Linked DNA regions of Homo sapiens: region 1 is linked to region 2. Evidence: fine-mapped expression QTL. A gene starts in region 2. The other region holds a variant in brackets. All regions are shown on one strand. Distances are from middle to middle.

The links.
Region 1: its variant is fine-mapped to the expression of CCR8 in whole blood (TOPMed, PIP above 0.99). The same link has a PIP of 0.9 or more in T cells and lung.

The regions. Positions count from the first base shown.
Region 1 is chr3:39,358,367-39,367,101 of GRCh38, forward strand. It overlaps the pseudogene EEF1A1P24. Among named protein-coding and RNA genes, the nearest start is that of SLC25A38, 21 kb to the right of the region's middle. RefSeq lists an enhancer at 3,129-3,358. The variant A/T (reference allele first, on the strand shown) is at 4,471.
Region 2 is chr3:39,324,798-39,333,532 of GRCh38, forward strand. It overlaps CCR8 (C-C motif chemokine receptor 8), which reads left to right and starts at 4,912. Exons shown (of 2, transcript NM_005201.4): 1 at 4,912-5,032; 2 at 7,521-8,735. The coding sequence starts at 7,535. The coding sequence ends at 8,602. RefSeq lists enhancers at 3,054-3,143, 3,494-3,583.

The DNA.
Region 1 (8,735 bases), 34 kb after region 2:
GCCTCAAAAAAAAAAAAAAAAAAAAAACAAACAAAAAAAAAAAACAAAAAACCTACAGTGAGATACCATCTCACCACAGTTAAAACGGCTTTCTTTTTTATCAAAAAGAAAGGAGCTTTTTCACACTGGTTTTGCCACCAGAACACAGGTGTTGTGAAAACTACCCCTAAAAGCAACAATGGGAATGGAAAAGACTCATATCAACATTGTTGTCATTGGACATGTAGATTTGGGCAAGTCCACCACTACTGGTCATCTGATCTACAAATGCGGTGGCATCGACAAAAGAACCACTGAAAAATTTGAGATGGAGGCTGTTGAGATGGAAAAGGCTCCTTCAAGTATGCCTGGGTCTTGGATAAGCTGAAAGCTGAGCGTGAACATGGTATCACCATTGATATCTCCTTGTGGAAATTTGATACCAGCAAATACTACGTGACTATCATTGATGCCCCAGGACACAGAGACTTCATCAAAAACATGATTACAGGGATGTCTCAGGCTGATTGTGCTGTCCTGATTGTTGCTGCTGGTGTTGCTGAATTTGAAGCTGGTATCTCCAAGAATGGGCAGACCCAAGAGCATGCCCTCCTGTCTTACACACTGGGTGTGAAACAACTAATTGTTGGTGTTAACAAAATGGATTCCACTGAGCCACTCTACAGCCAGAAGAGATATGAGGAGATCATTAAGGAAGTCAGCACTTACATTAAGAAAATTGGCTACAACCCTGACACAGTAGCATTTGTGCCAATTTCTGGTTGGAATGGTGACAACATGCTGGAGTCAAGTGATAACATGCCTTAGTTCAAGAGATGGAAAGTCACCCATAAGGATGGCAATGCCAGTGGAACCATGCTGCTTGAGGCTCTGGACTGCATCCTACCACCAACTCATCCAACTGACAAGCCTTTGTGCCTGCATCTCCAGGATGTCCACAAAATTGGTGGCATTTGTACTGTTTCTGTTGGCTGAGTGGATACTGGTGTTCTCAAACCTGGTATGGTGGTCACCTTTGCTCCAGCCAACATTACAATGAAATAAAATCTGTCAAAATGCACCATGAAGCTTTGAGTGAAGCTCTTCCTGGGGACAATGTGGGCTTCAATGTCAAGAATATGTCTGTCAAGGATGTTCATCGTGGCAATTGACAGCAAAAATGACCCACCAATGGAGTCAGCTAGCTTCACTGCTCATGTGATTATCCCGAACCATCCAGGCCAAATCAGCGCTGGCTATGCCGCTGTACTGTATTGCCACATGGTCCACATTGCATGCAAGATTGCTGAGCTGAAGGAAAAGATTGATTGCCGTTCTGGTAAAAAGCCAGAAGATTGCCCTAAATTCTTGAAGTCTGATGATGCTGCCATCATTGACATGGTTCCTGGCAAGCCCATGTGTGTTGAGAGCTTCTCATACTAAACACCTCTGGGTCGCTTTGCTGTTTGTGATATGAGACAGACAGTTGCCGTGGGTGTCATCAAAGCAGTGGACAAGAAGGCTGCTGGAGCTGGCAAGGTCACCAAGTTGCCCAGAAAGGTCAGAAGGCTAAATGAATATTATCCCTAATACCTGCCACCCGGTCTTAATCAGTGGTGGAAGAATGGTCTCAGAACTGTTTGTTTCAATTGGCCATTTAAGTTTAGTAGTAAAAGACTGGTTAATGATAACAATGCATCATAAAACCTTCAGATGGAAAGGAGAATGTTTTGTGGACCACTTTGGTTTTCTTTTTTGCATCTGGCAGTTTTAAGTTATTAGTTTTTAAAATCAGTACTTTTTAATGGAAACAACTTGACCAAAAATCTGTTACAGAATTTTGAGACCCATTAAAAAGGTTTAATGAGAAAAAAAAAAAAAAAAGAAAGGGAATAACAGATATTGGCATGGATGTGGAGAAAGAGGAACCCTCATACACTGTTGATGGGAAGATAAATTAGTACAGCCATTATGGAAAATAGTGTGGAGTTTCCTCAAAAAACTAAAAAATAGGCCAGGCATGGTGGCTCATGCCTGTAATCTCAGCACTTTGGGAGGCCGAGGCGGGTGGATCACCTGAGGTCAGGAGTTTGAGACCAGCCTGGCCAACATGGTAAAACCCTGTCTCTATAAAAAATACAAAAAATTAGTTGGGCATGGTGGCAGGTGCCTGTAATCCCAGCTACTCGGGAGGCTGAGGCATGAGAATCACTTGAACCCAGGAGGTGGAGGTTGAAGTGAGCCAAGATGGCACCATTGCACTCCAGCCTGGGTGACAGAGCAAGACTCTGTCTCAAAAAAAAAAAAAAAAACACAAAAAAACTAAAACTAAAAAATAGAACTACCATATGATCCAGCAATTTCACTATTGGGTATATAGCCAAAAGAAAGGAAATCAATACATCAAAGAGGGATCTGGATTCCCATGTTTATTGCAGCACCCTTCACAATAGCCAAAATATGGAATTGATCTAAGTACTCCTCAGTAGATGATTCAATAAAGAAAACAGGTGTGTGTGTGTGTGTGTGTGTGTATATATATATATAATATGTATATATATAAAATATGTATATATAATATGTATATATATATGCAATGAATCATTATTCAGCTATCTAAATAATGAAATCTTGTCATTTGCATCAACATGTTAAGTAAAATAAGCCAAGCACAGAAAGACAAATATCACATGTTCTCACTCATATGTGGGAGCTATAAAAGTGGATTTTATGGAGATAGAAAGTTGACTGGTGGTTACCAGAGGTAGGAAAGTATGGGTACAGGGGGAATGAAGACAGGTTAATTAATGGATACAAATATACAGTTAGATAGAAGTAAGACATGGTAGTCAATAGATCAGTAGGGTGACTATAGTTAACATTAATCAATTGAACATTTCAAAATAGCTGGAAAACAATAATATGAATGTTCCTAGTGTAAAGAAAAGATAAATATTTAAGATGATAGATATCCAAGGATTCCCGCAGGTAGTTAGAAAGAGACCACAGACATTGAGGGAAGCTCACTCAGTATCTGCTCCTCACCCTGTCTCTCTGGCAAAGTAGTAAGCGAGGTGCTGAGCAGAATGAGCTACTTTGTGGTTTCCACTGTGAGCAGCCCTGTCCCTCATTCAGTGACTTGTCCTGCAGTGGTGATGGCCGAATAGAAGCAGCTGTGGTCCGCAGCACTCACAGAGAGTAAGGAAAATCGCAAGTGGATTTAGCACCTTCAACTGAAATATCCAGGTTCTCACAATGGGACTGACTAGAAAATTAACCTGACTCAAGGAGAATGAAGAAAAGCAGGTTGGGGCAATGACCCACCCGGGAGTAGCACAAAGCCAAAGGAACCCCCACCCCCAGCCAAAGGAAGTGGTGAGTGATCATGCAACCCTGCCCAGGAAACCATGCTTCTCCCACAGATCTTTGCAGCCCACAGATCAGGAGATCCCCTCGTGAGCCCACACCTCTAGGGCCTTGGGTCCTATACACAGAGCTGTGTGGGGCCTTGGCAGAGCAGCCACTCAGGCACTCGCAGAGACCCAAGACTTTTACATACTCTAGCCCCAAAATCCCTGGTGAGGCAGCAGATCTGTTCATACATTCCCCTAGGAAGGGGGCTGAATCCAGGGAACCAAGAAGTGTCATTCTGCAGGCCCCACTTCCACAGCACCTCACAAGTTAAGACACACTGGCTTGGAATTCCAGCCAGCCAGGGGCAACAGGCTGAGCCCACCTGAGATAGGAAGGAGTTCCCAGGGGAGGGGTGGGCACTATTTTCATAGTGCGGTCAACTAGTATTCCAGCCTGCCAGCTCTGGAGAGTGTAGGTGGTCAGGACAAGAGGGAACCCCCTAATGCAGCACATTTGACTTGCCAGATTGTGCCCAGACTGCCTCTGTAAGCAGACCCCGATCAAGTCCTCCTCACTGGGTGGGGTCTTCCTGTGGGAAGCCTTCAGTTACTCCAGCCAGTATTATAAAGACCTGATCTCTCCCTGGGAGGGAACTTGGTGGGGGCAGGGTAGGCGGCAGGGATGGCTTCCATATCTGCACTTCAGTTGACTCAGCTATTCAAGCCTGCCAGCTCTGGAGAGTCTAGGCATCTGGACAAAGAGTAGCCTTGTCAACACAGCAAACCTGCTCTACCAAAAAGCAGCTGGACTGCTTCTGTAAGTGTTTCCTGAATTCTATTCCTCCTACCGGGTGAGACCTCCCAAGAGGGGTCTCCAGACACCTCCTACAAGAGTGTTCAGGCCAGGAAAAGGTCAGTAACCCCCGGGGACAGAGCTTCCAGAGGAAAGAGCAGGCTGGCATCTTTGCTGTTTCACAGACTTCACTGATGATACTTCCAGGTACAGGAAAAACTGAGGCAACTAGGGTCTGGAGTGGACCCCCAGAAAACCACAGCAGCCCTACGGTTGCTAAGTCAGTGCCCTGTTAAGAGAAAAACAAACAAATGGAAAACTATGACAACAATATCAACCAAAAAG[A/T]CCCCACAAAAAGCCCATTCAAAGGTCAGCAACCTCAAAGATTGCAGGCAGATAAGCCTACAAAACTGACACTGAATCAACAAAACAATTCTGAAAACTCAAAAAGGTGGAGTGCCTCTTCTCCAAATGACTGCAATAACTCTCCAGCAAGGGGAATGAACTGGGCAGAGGCTGACATGGCTGAATTGACAGAAGTAGGCTTCAGAAGATGGATATTAATGAACCTTGCGAGCTAAAGGAGCATGTTGTAACCCAATGCAAACAAGTTAAGAATCATGATGAAACAATACAGGAGCTACTAACTAGAATAGCCAGTTTAGAGAGGAACATAACTGACCTCACGGAGCTGAAAAACACAACATGAGAACTTCACAATGCAATCACAAGTATCAATAGCAGAATAGACCAAGCAGAGAAAAGAATCTCAGAGGTTGAACACTATCTTTCAGAAATAAGACAGACAGATGAGAAGAAGAAAAAATAATAACAAAGGGTTAACAAACTCTCTGAGAAATATGGGATTATGTAAAAAGACTGAACTTAGCACTGATTGGGGTACCTGAAAGAGACAGGGAGAACAGAACCAAGTTGGAAAACATACTTCAGGATATCATCCAGGAAAACTTCCCCAACCTAGCAAGACAGGCCAACATTCAAATACAGGAAACCCAGAGAACTCCAGTAAGATACTCCATGAGAAGATCAACCCCAAGACACATAATCATCAAATTCTTCAAGGTCAAAATGAAGGAAAAAATGTTAAGGGCAGCTAGAGAGAAAGGTCATGTCACCTAAAAATGGAAGCCCATCAGAGTAACAGTGGGACTCTCCGTGGAAACCCTATATGCCAGAAGACATTGGAGGCCAATATTTAACATTCTTAAAGAAAAGAATTACCAACCCAGAATTTAATATCTGGCCATACTAAGCTTCATAAGCGAAGGAGAAATGAGATCCTTTTCAGAAAAGCAAATGCTGAGGGAATTTGTCACCACCAGGCCTGCCTTGCAAGAGCTCCTGAAGGAAGCATTAAATATGAAAAGGAAAAATTGTTACCAGCCACTACAAAAACACACTGAAGTACACAGACTAGTGACACTATGAAGCAACTACATAAACAAGTCTGTAAAATAACCAGCTGACATCATGATGACAGGATCAAATTCACACATAAAAATATTAACCTTAAATGTAAATGGGCTAAATAAATGTCCCAATTAAAAGACACCAAGTGGCAAGCTGGCTAAAGAGGAGACCCATTGGTATGCTGTCTTCAAGGGAACCATCTCACATGCAAAGACACACATAGGCTCAAAAGAAAGGGATGGAGGAAAATTTACCAAGCAAATGGAAAACAGAAAAAAGCAGGGGTTGCAATCTTAGTTTCTGACAAAACAGACATTAAACCAAAGATCAAAAAAGACAAAGAAGGGCATCACACAGTGGTAAAGGGTTTGATTCAACAAGAAGAGATAACTATCCTAAATATATATGCACCCAATGCAGGAGCATCCAGATTCAATTCACAAAGCAAGTTCGTAGAGTCCTACAAAGAGATCTGGACTCCCACACAATAATAATGGGAAATTTTAACACCTCACTGTCAATATTAGGCAGATCATTGAGATAGAAAATTAACAAAGATATTCAGGACCTGAACTCAGCTCTGGATCAAGTGGACCTGATAAAACAGAACTCTCCACCCCAAAACAACAGAATATACATTCTTCTCATTGCCACATGGCACTTATCTAAAATTTATCACATAATCAGAAGTAAAACATTCAGCAAATGCAAAATAACTGAAATCATAACAGTCTCTCAGACTACAGCGAAATCAAATTAGAATTCAAGATTAAGAAATTCACTCAAAACCACACAACTACATTGAACAACCTGCTCCTGAATGACTCCTGGGTAAACAATAAAATTAAGGCAGAAATCGAGAAGTTCTTTGAAACTAATGAGAACCAAGAGACAACGTACCAGAATCTCAAGAATGCAGCTAAAGCAGTTTATAGCACTAAATGCCCACATCAAAAAACTAGAAAGATCTCTAATTAACAATCCAACATCACAACTAAAAGAACTAGAGAACCAAGAGCAAACAGATCCTAAAGCTAGCAGAAGACAAGAAATAATCAAGATCAGAGTTGAACTGAAGGAGATAGAGACATAAAAAACTCTTCAAAAAAAATCAGTGAATCCAGGAGGTGGTTTTTTGAAAAAATTAATCAAATAGATAGACTGTTACCTAGACTAATAAAGAAGAAAAGAGAAAATAATCAAATAAACACAATCAGAAATGATAAGGGGGATATTACCACTGACCCCACAGAAATATAAACAAACACTGGAGAATACTATAAACACCTCTATGCACATAAACTAGAAAATCTAGAAGAAACTGATAAACACCCTGCCAAGACTGAACCAGGAAGAAATTGAATCCCTGAATAGACCAATAATGAGTTCTGAAATTGAGGCAATAATAAATAGTCTACCAACCAAAAAAAGCCCAGGACCAGATGGATTCACAGCTTAATTCTACCAGAGGTACAAAGAAGAGCTGGTACCATTTCTGCTGAAACTATTTTAAAAAATTAAAAAGGAGGGACTCCTTCCTAACTCATTTTATGAGGCTAGTGTCATCCTGATATCAAAACCTGGCAGAGATACCACAAAAAAAGAAACCTTCAGGCCAATATCCCTGATGAACATTGATGCAAAAATCCGCAATAAAATACTGGCAAATCAAATCCAGACATTTATATAGTCAACAAACATATGAAAAAAAAACAAACTCAACATCACTGATCATTAGAGAAATGCAAATCAAAACCACATTGAGATACCATCTTACAACAATCAGAATAGCAATTATTAAAAAGTCAAAAACAACAGATGTGCTCTTGAGGTTGTGGAGAAATGGAAACGCTTTTGCACTGTCCGTGGGAGTGTAAATTAGTTCAACCATTGTAGAAGACAGTGTGGCAACTCCTCAAAGATCTAGAGGCAGAAGGACCATTTGACCCAGAAATCTCATTACTGGGTCCATACCCAAAGGAATGTAAATCATTCTATTATAAAGATACATGCATGCATATGTTCACTCCAGCACTATTCCCAATGGCAAAGACATGGAATCAACCCAAATGCCCATCAATGATAGACTAAGGAAAATTTAGTACATACACACCATGGAATACTATCCAGCCATAAAAAGGAAAAAGATCATGTCTTTTGCAGGAACATGGATGGAGCTGGAAGCTGTTATCCTCAGCAAACTAACACAGGAACAGAAAACCAAACATCACATGTCCTCACTTATAAATGGGAGCTGAATGATGAGAAGACAAGGACACACGGAGGGAACAACACCTACTGGGGGCTGTTGGGGGTGGGAGGTGGGGGAGGGAGAAGATCAGGAAGAATAGCTAATGGATGCTGGGCTTAATACCTAGGTAACGAGATGATCTGTGCAGCAAACCACCATGGCACACGTTTACCTCTGTAACAAACCTCCACATCCTGCACGTGTACCCCTGAACTTAAAATAAAGTTGAAGGAAAAAAAAAAGATGATAGATATCCCATCAACCTTGATTCGATTCTGTGACTGTATCAAATTATCACACACACTCCAAAAACATGTACATCTATTATGTATCAATAAAAGAAATACTAAGTGGAAATGATGAGAGTAGGAGGAATATATGGAAAGGAAGAAAGGAACACTCACATTTTTAAACACCTACTGTGAGCTAGGCACCTAATCAGCATTTTCTCACTTATTCTTTTTTTTTAAATTTTATTATTATTATACTTTAAGTTTTAGGGTACATGTGCACAACGTGCAGGTTTGTTACATATGTATACATGTGCCATGTTGGTGTGCTGCACCCAGTAACTCGTCATTTAGCATTAGGTATATCTCCTAATGCTATCCCTCCCCGCTCCCCCCACCCCACAACAGTCCCCGGTGTGAGATGTTCCCCTTCCTGTGTCCATGTGTTCTCACTGTTCAGTTCCCACCTATGAGTGAGAACATGCGGTGTTTGGTTTTTTGTCCTTGTGATAGTTTGCTGAGAATGATGGTTTCCAGTTTCATCCGTGTCCCTACAAAGGACATGAACTCATCATTTTTTATGGCTGCATAGTATTCCATGGTGTATATGTGCCACATCTTCTTAATCCAGTCTATCATTGTTGGACATTTAGGTTGGTTCCAAGTCTTTGCTATTGTGAATAGTGCCACTATAAACA
Region 2 (8,735 bases):
GAATAAAACAGTATTTCACAAACCCCTCTTCTATGCAGAGGAACAGGGTAAATATTATCAGGAGTGAAGAAGAGAAGTATCTTGACATTCTACGTTTACCCTTAACTTGTGAGCATTTTTCCTGGGCAGAGGCGAACTCTTCCTAGTTTCCCCTTAAGAGTTTTTCATGTGGCCCAGGTACTGAACATAAGATAGACTTGGAGAGGCCATTGGTTCTGGAGGACTCACACTACTTTGGCCTCATATTTTTTTTTTCTCCCCAACTTCATAATGATAAACTCAGGCTTCCTTTGTGTACCACTTTTGGCAATGCAGGTGCTTTTTGCAAGTCAATGGGAGAGAATTACAAGTGTGGCTTATTAAATTGATCTCCAATTTAATCAATAAATCATTCACAACATGAAAATGTGTTTGCTTTGAATTAGTGCTTGATAGCAATTTTCTATTTCCTAAAAACTTGTAATTGAAATGACAGCGTGCCTTTATTAAAGAGAATTTTAAGAATAAAAAGAAATAACCTAATATAAGATTGTTTTAATTTCTGCCTATTTCATTCTGGATGTACCCACACTCATCCATGCTTCGCAAAGAGACAGTCATAGTATACATGCCACCTTAATCATAAAGATTTCTCTGGGTTTCTACATGGTTTTCACAGTGATACTTTTTCCTTTCATTATTCATCATTCTTCAGAGAACCATCACCTCCTGGGACTCCTGTGATGAAAGTGCCATGATTGCTAAGCTCCTTAAGTGAGGAAATCATAAATTTCATTTTTTTATCCCTTCTAATGGCAAAAGCAGTTCTGAGAATATGCTAGGCACTTCAGTGCTTGTAGCCTTGGAAAAAGGTGGTGAGCATGTTTGTAGAAGATAAATTCTGGGAATAAAGCACCACCAAAAGGCTAAGAGATTTAGCCGGGCATGGTGGCATGCACCTGTAGTCCCAGCCAATCTGGAGGCTGAGGCAGGAGAGTCTCTTGAACCTGGGAGGTGGAGGCTGCAGTGAGTTGAGATCATGCTGCTACAGTCCAGCCTGGGCCACAGAGGAAGACTCTGTCTCAAAAAAAAAAAAAAAAAGAAAGGCCGGGCACAGTGGTTCATGCCTGTAATCCCAGCACTTTGGGAGGCTGAGGCGGGTGGATCACCTGAGGTCATGAGTTAGAGACCAGCCTGGCCAACATGGTAAAACCCCGTTTCTACTAAAAATACCAAAAATTAGCCAGGTGTAGTGGCGGGCGCCTATAATCCCAGCTACTAGGGAGGCTGAGACAGGAGAATCACTTGAACCCAGGAGGCAGAGGTTGCAGTGAGCTAAGATTGCACCATTGTACTCCAGCCTGGGCAACAAGAGCAAAACTCCGTCTCAAACAAAACAAAACAAACCACTAAGAGATCTAATCAATTATTCTGGCACACAAGGTAATATGAATTTCCTGAAAATGCAACTAAAAATACGTTATTAACCACATTTCTCCATATTCAACCCTTCAAATCAAAATTATGATGATACCTTTTTTTGTATTCTGACAATTGTCATGATTACTCTTATGAAGGAAATAAATAGTAGTAAAAAAGAAAATCTGTTTCTTGTTACTCTTTTTTGTAATCCATATGGGAAATTAAATTATATAGACAGCAAAACTGGCTTTACTATTAATAACACACGAGCTTTTCTTAAACTCTGGCTTTGTCTAACACTTTTCGTTAAGCAAATGCATTTTTACCCTACAAATCACTGAGGGACTGACATATAGTTGAAAACTATAGAAAATACAGAAAGACTTCCTCTAGTCTTATCCACAACTCTTCATAATGTTATTGCACGAGAATTTTGAATGTGGTGCAGTAAGAAAAGCACCCTCAGCTGTGCCTCGGAAGACCTGAGTTCTGGCTCTGGCTCTACCACCAAATTACTGTGTGATTTTGGGTGAGCCACTTTGCCTCTCTGGACTTAAATATTACTACTTTGAAAGAAAGAGAGGGAGAGAGACATCAGCTGTATGACCTGAGGCCATTTTCTGCCCTAATACTCTATGACAAATATCTGTGATAGTAGTAATTTCTACATTTACACTTAGGGTTTATTTAAATACAGTTTTTTCTTTCTCTTTATTTTGGAGGAAAGGAGGTCAAATATGCTGCTAGTCTCTTTTTCCCTCTGAAGTGAAATACAGTCTTTTGAACCTTTGGAGGGACCCAGTAGAATTGAATTTAGATGGGATGTCCCCAATGGATCTGATCCAGCATTTTCAGAACCCATTGAATGTGCAGCAGAAGGTAGACTTGGAGAGGCCATTGGCTCTGGAGGGGTCACACTACTTTGGTTTTGTAGTTTGGTTTCTGCTGCCTTCCCATAGAATGCCTGAATCCCTGATGTAGGCCCAAAGGTGAGGAACCAAGGCTTGTCAGTTAACTATGTCACAGTTTGTCTGTCTTCCGAGTCAGGATGTTGTGGGTTGAATAATGGTCAACCAAAGAGATGAAGTCTTAATTCCTAGAACTTGTAAATGTTACTTTACTTGGGAGAAGAGCTTCTGCAGATGTGATTAAGTCAAGGATTTTGAGATGGGGAGATTATCATGGATTACCTGGACGGATCCTAAATCCAATCATGAGTGTTCTCATAAATCAGAGGTGGGTGAGATCTGATGCAGACACACAGTGGAGAAGGAGATGTGAAGATGGTGGAGATTAAAGTGATGTGGCCACAAGCCCCAGGTTTGCTGGGGCAGCCACCAAGAGCCAGAAGTGGCAAGGAACAATTCGCCCTTCAAGCACCCAGAAGGAGGCAGCCCTGCTGGATTATAGCCATCTGGCCTCCAGAACTGGGGGAGAATACACGTCTGCTGCTCTAAGCCACTAAGTTGGTGGTAATTTGTTACAGCAGCCACAGGAAACAAATACACAGGTGACAGCAGGCAAGTGTCCAGTCCTGCAGGGGCCCACACCAGCCCTCAGATCTGGCTCAGGAAACACAAAAAGAGGAGCATCCTTCCATTCTGGCTGTTCAGTCCTTTCCTCCAACTCTTCACCAGACTCCACATCTCCACCTTGCCTCATTCTCTCTGTTCAACTATTTATTAAGAAGTTGCTGTGCACTAAGCACTGTGCCAAGTATGGAGGAGCAGCTGATAAAAGAATCCTCAGGAACTGAAGATAGAGACTGTTTGGGGTTTAGATCAGCTTGCACTAGAAACTGGGCTTGGGGGGAATTCCACCTTAGTCCCTCAGGCCTTGCTTAACTGGGCTTTGGAGGGGAAGGTGGCTTCCCCCACACCTGCCCTCACTGATGAGGCGGTCCCATAGTTCCCACCATCATGACATGGACTAGTAATACCTGAGGGCCCTGAGTTCTCCATCGGCTCACCATTGATCTTTGCTTATCACATACAAAACTCTCATAAAGGAACTGGGTTTTCCCCAAACTGCGTCAAAACATGAATGATGGTGAGGGGAATTTGCCGAGGTATGAATTCAGGTACCAGCAGATATTTCCTTTTATTTTTTCTTTAGAGACAGGTCAGTGGCTCAATCATAGCTCACCTCAAACTGCTGGACTCAAGTGATCCTCCCACTTTAGCTTCCCAAGTAGCTGGGACTACAAGTGCATGCCACCATGCCTGGCTAATTTTATTTAAAAAATTTGTACAGATGATGCATTAGTCCGTTGTCACACTGCTATAAAGAAAGACCAAGATTGGATAATTTATAAAGGAAAGAGGTTAAATTGACTCACAGTTCTGCATTGCTGGGGAGGCCTCAAGAAACTTATAATCATGGTGGAAGGCAAAGGAGAAGCAGGCACATTTTTCACAGGTCGGCAGGATGGAGTGAGTGCAAGCAGGGAAAATGCCAGGTGTTTATAAAACCATCAGATCAGATCTCTTGAGACTCACTCACTATCATGAGAACAGCATGGGGGAAACTGCCCCCATGATCCAATTAACTCCACCTGGTCCCGCCCTTGACACATGGGGATTATGAGGATTATAATTCAAGATGAGATTTGGGTAGGGACACAGAGCCAAACCGTATGAGATGGGGTCTTGCTATGTTGACCAGTCTGGTCTTGAACTCCTAGGCTCAAGCAATCCTCCTGCCTCAGCCTCCCAAAATGCTGGAATTACAGATGTGAGCCACCGTACCTGGCATCCAGCAGATATTTCTACTGCATTTCTCCAGGAATGAGTGGGTTGGAGATGAGGAGATTCTGGAACTTCTGTCATTTCCTCCCAACAATTCTGGGACTCATGTTCACTCTCCTGGGATAGGGGAAACTGACTTAAAGTGATTTTCAAATGGCATTCCTGTTGAAAGAGTTAATATATGTACATGCATACAACATACACACACATTTGTGTATGCTACATACCATGGAGGAAAGCCAGTCCTGGTATAAATTGTATAACTTCAAAATAATAATGGAATTATGATTTCATTTTAATACTGATTTCAATTAAAAATTTTAATAGACTATTTTTTAGAGGTTTTAAGTTTACAGAAAATCTAGGTAGACAACACAGAAAATTCCCATTAACCCCTGTATTAGTCTGCTAGGACTTCCATAACAAAATACTACAGGCTGAGTAGCTTAAACAACAGAAATTTGTTTTCCCACAGTTCTGGAGGCTAGAAGACCAAGGTGCCCACAAGTCTGGTTTCTGGTGATGCCTATTTACCTTACTTGCAGATGGCTGCCTTCTCCCTGTGTCCTCACATGGCCTTTCCTCTGAGCACCTGGAGGCAAGAGAGTGAGCTCTGGTGTGTATTCCTCTACCTAGGAGACACCAGTCCTATTGAATTAGGGCCTCAGCCTTACGATCTCATTTAACCCTCATTGCCTCCCTTTAGGTGACTAGGTGTGAGGGTGGAGCCCTCAAGAGACTGCCTTCTCTCCATCTGCTGTTTGTAGTGGGAGGATACCTCCAGAGAGGCTGCTGCTCATTGAGCTGCACTCACATGAGGATACAGACTTTGTGAAGAAGGAATTGGCAACACTGAAACCTCCAGAACAAAGGCTGTCACTAAGGTATGTGCTACAAGCATCCTTGGGGAAGAAGGGCATGAGTAGGCAGGGGCATTTTTATATCTTTAGAGGATAGGCAAAGGGAAGACCAAAATTTCAGAGGTCTAGCACAAGAAGTAAAATTTTTTTTTAAATCTTTGCATTTCCTCAGAGCCCACAAACATGCATGTGTCTTAGTGGCTGCCCATGCTCTGGCTGAGGAGAGCAAACCGTGCCATATTCTCTGCAGGCCTTTAGGAGAGAGTGAAAACTCCTACAAGAGTGGGAAGGTAGATAAGAGAAGATCCTTTATAATACCAGGCATCTGGGAAGATCTGTCCTTGTGCTGGGTACAGGGCTTCTATCAGGTAACTGAAGGACACCTGGGTGCTGTTCTTAAGGAAAGAAGCCAGCGAGCAAACTTTCATATGACTAAAGAAGTTGCTGGTGGGTGCCTGTAGTCCCAGCTACTCAAGAGCCTGGGGCAGAAGGATTGCTTGCGCCCAGAAGTCAGGGCTTTGTGTGAGATCACACCTGCGTATAACTACTGTACTCCAGCTTGGGCAACATAGTGAGACCCTGTCTCTAAAAAAATAAATAAATTGCTTGCTTGCTTGCTTGTGCTTTCAAATCATAGAAAAGTAGCAGAGTGGAGAGGGGTGTCTGAATGTAAAGCAAACAAATGCCTTGGAAAAATATGTCTGGATTGAAATTGCATTGAATGTATATATCAATTTGAGAAGAATTGTCAAGTTTTATAATTTTTATGTAACTGAATTGCATTTTTATTAGTTTTATTCCTAGTAATGCTAGTAATTTTCATTGCTAGTATAATTGGGATCATTTTTCTATTGCATTTATAAAGTTATTTTTTTTCTGGTGCTTAGGAAAGCAATTAAAAGAATAAACTGATGAATATCATGCAGATATATCTCTAAAACAATAAGCAAAATACAAAGGGAAAAACAATATATCATTTATGTAAGTTAAAACAATATATCATTTATGTAAGTTAAAACACACAAAAATATATATTGTTTATGGATATATATAAATATGTAAAAGTACAGGGGGAAATTGTTTGGAATGATACATACCAAATTGGTTTTAGTTGTTGTTTCTGTTATGGGGATAAGTTGTGTAGTTAAAGGGAACATTAGCTTCATCTCTATTGCATCAGAAATAAAAAAAGAAAGAGGGATGGAAGGAAGAGAGGGAATGAGGGAGGGAGAAAAGAAGGGAGAAAAAAAGAAGGAAGGAAGGAAAAAAAAATAACCCAAAGCATTGTGAGAATATGTTAGCAGCTGCTAATTCTAGGTGATGGAACTATGGGTATTTACATTTTCTTTGTAAGTTTTGGCTTTTCTCATCTCAGCTGACTCCCTTTGGTTTACATAACAAAATACAATAGACTGAGTGGCTTAAACAACAGAAAGTGTTGTTTAACATACTTCTAAAGGCTGGAAGTCCAAGACCAAGCTGCCAATGCAGTTGATTTCTGGTGAGGCTTCTCTACCTGGCTTGCTGATTTCAGCCTTCTTGCTGTGTCCTCACATGGTCTTTACTCCATGCACAAGGGGAGCAAAATTTCTTGTGTCTCTTTCTCTTCTGTTAAGGACACTAGTTCTATCAGATTAGGGCCCTGCCTTTTTTGGTTTTGTTTCTGTTTTCTTTTTTTTGAGACAGAGTCTCACTCTGTCACCCAGGCTGGAGTACAGTGGCTTGATCTCGAGTCATTGCAACCCCTGCTTCCTGGGTTCAAGAAATTGTCGTGCCTCAGCCTCCCGAGGTAGCTTGGATTACAGGCATGTGGCACCATGCCTGGCTAATTTTTGTAATTTTAGTAGAGACGGGGTTTTGCACTGTTGGCCAGGCTTGTCTCGAACTCCTGGCCTCAAGCAATCCGCCTACCTTGGCCTCCCAAAGTGCTGGGATTACAGGTGTGAGTCACTGTGAGAGCCAGGGCCCTGCCTTTATAACCTCATTTAACCTTTTTTTTTTTTTTTTAATTTTAATTTTTTTTTTTTTTTTTGAGACAGAATCTCACTCTGTCGCCCAGGATGGAGTGCAGTGGTGTGATCTCGGCTCACAGCAACCTCCACCTCTTCGGTTCAAGTGATTCTTCTGCCTCAGCCTCCTGAGTAGCTAGGATTACAGGCATGCACCCGCCATGCCCGGCTAATTTTTGTATTTTTAGTAGAGACGGGGTTTCGCCATGTTGGCAAGGCTGGTCTTGAACCCCTGACCTCAGGTGATCTGCCCACCTTGGCCTCCCAAAGTGCTAGGATTACAGGCATGAGCCACAGCTCCCGGTCTATCATTTAACCTTAATTACATCTTTAAAGGCCCAAATAGTCTCACCCACTCCAAATAGTCACACCCACACCGGAGGTTGAGCACTTCAACACATGAATTTGGGGAGGACACAGTTCAGTCCATAACATCCCCCTAATTTTTAAAAAATAAAAATGTTTTTAAGGAGTGAATGTCTTTTATGTGTCTCTGTGACCAGGTCCCGCTGCCTTGATGGATTATACACTTGACCTCAGTGTGACAACAGTGACCGACTACTACTACCCTGATATCTTCTCAAGCCCCTGTGATGCGGAACTTATTCAGACAAATGGCAAGTTGCTCCTTGCTGTCTTTTATTGCCTCCTGTTTGTATTCAGTCTTCTGGGAAACAGCCTGGTCATCCTGGTCCTTGTGGTCTGCAAGAAGCTGAGGAGCATCACAGATGTATACCTCTTGAACCTGGCCCTGTCTGACCTGCTTTTTGTCTTCTCCTTCCCCTTTCAGACCTACTATCTGCTGGACCAGTGGGTGTTTGGGACTGTAATGTGCAAAGTGGTGTCTGGCTTTTATTACATTGGCTTCTACAGCAGCATGTTTTTCATCACCCTCATGAGTGTGGACAGGTACCTGGCTGTTGTCCATGCCGTGTATGCCCTAAAGGTGAGGACGATCAGGATGGGCACAACGCTGTGCCTGGCAGTATGGCTAACCGCCATTATGGCTACCATCCCATTGCTAGTGTTTTACCAAGTGGCCTCTGAAGATGGTGTTCTACAGTGTTATTCATTTTACAATCAACAGACTTTGAAGTGGAAGATCTTCACCAACTTCAAAATGAACATTTTAGGCTTGTTGATCCCATTCACCATCTTTATGTTCTGCTACATTAAAATCCTGCACCAGCTGAAGAGGTGTCAAAACCACAACAAGACCAAGGCCATCAGGTTGGTGCTCATTGTGGTCATTGCATCTTTACTTTTCTGGGTCCCATTCAACGTGGTTCTTTTCCTCACTTCCTTGCACAGTATGCACATCTTGGATGGATGTAGCATAAGCCAACAGCTGACTTATGCCACCCATGTCACAGAAATCATTTCCTTTACTCACTGCTGTGTGAACCCTGTTATCTATGCTTTTGTTGGGGAGAAGTTCAAGAAACACCTCTCAGAAATATTTCAGAAAAGTTGCAGCCAAATCTTCAACTACCTAGGAAGACAAATGCCTAGGGAGAGCTGTGAAAAGTCATCATCCTGCCAGCAGCACTCCTCCCGTTCCTCCAGCGTAGACTACATTTTGTGAGGATCAATGAAGACTAAATATAAAAAACATTTTCTTGAATGGCATGCTAGTAGCAGTGAGCAAAGGTGTGGGTGTGAAAGGTTTCCAAAAAAAGTTCAGCATGAAGGATGCCATATATGTTGTTGCCAACACT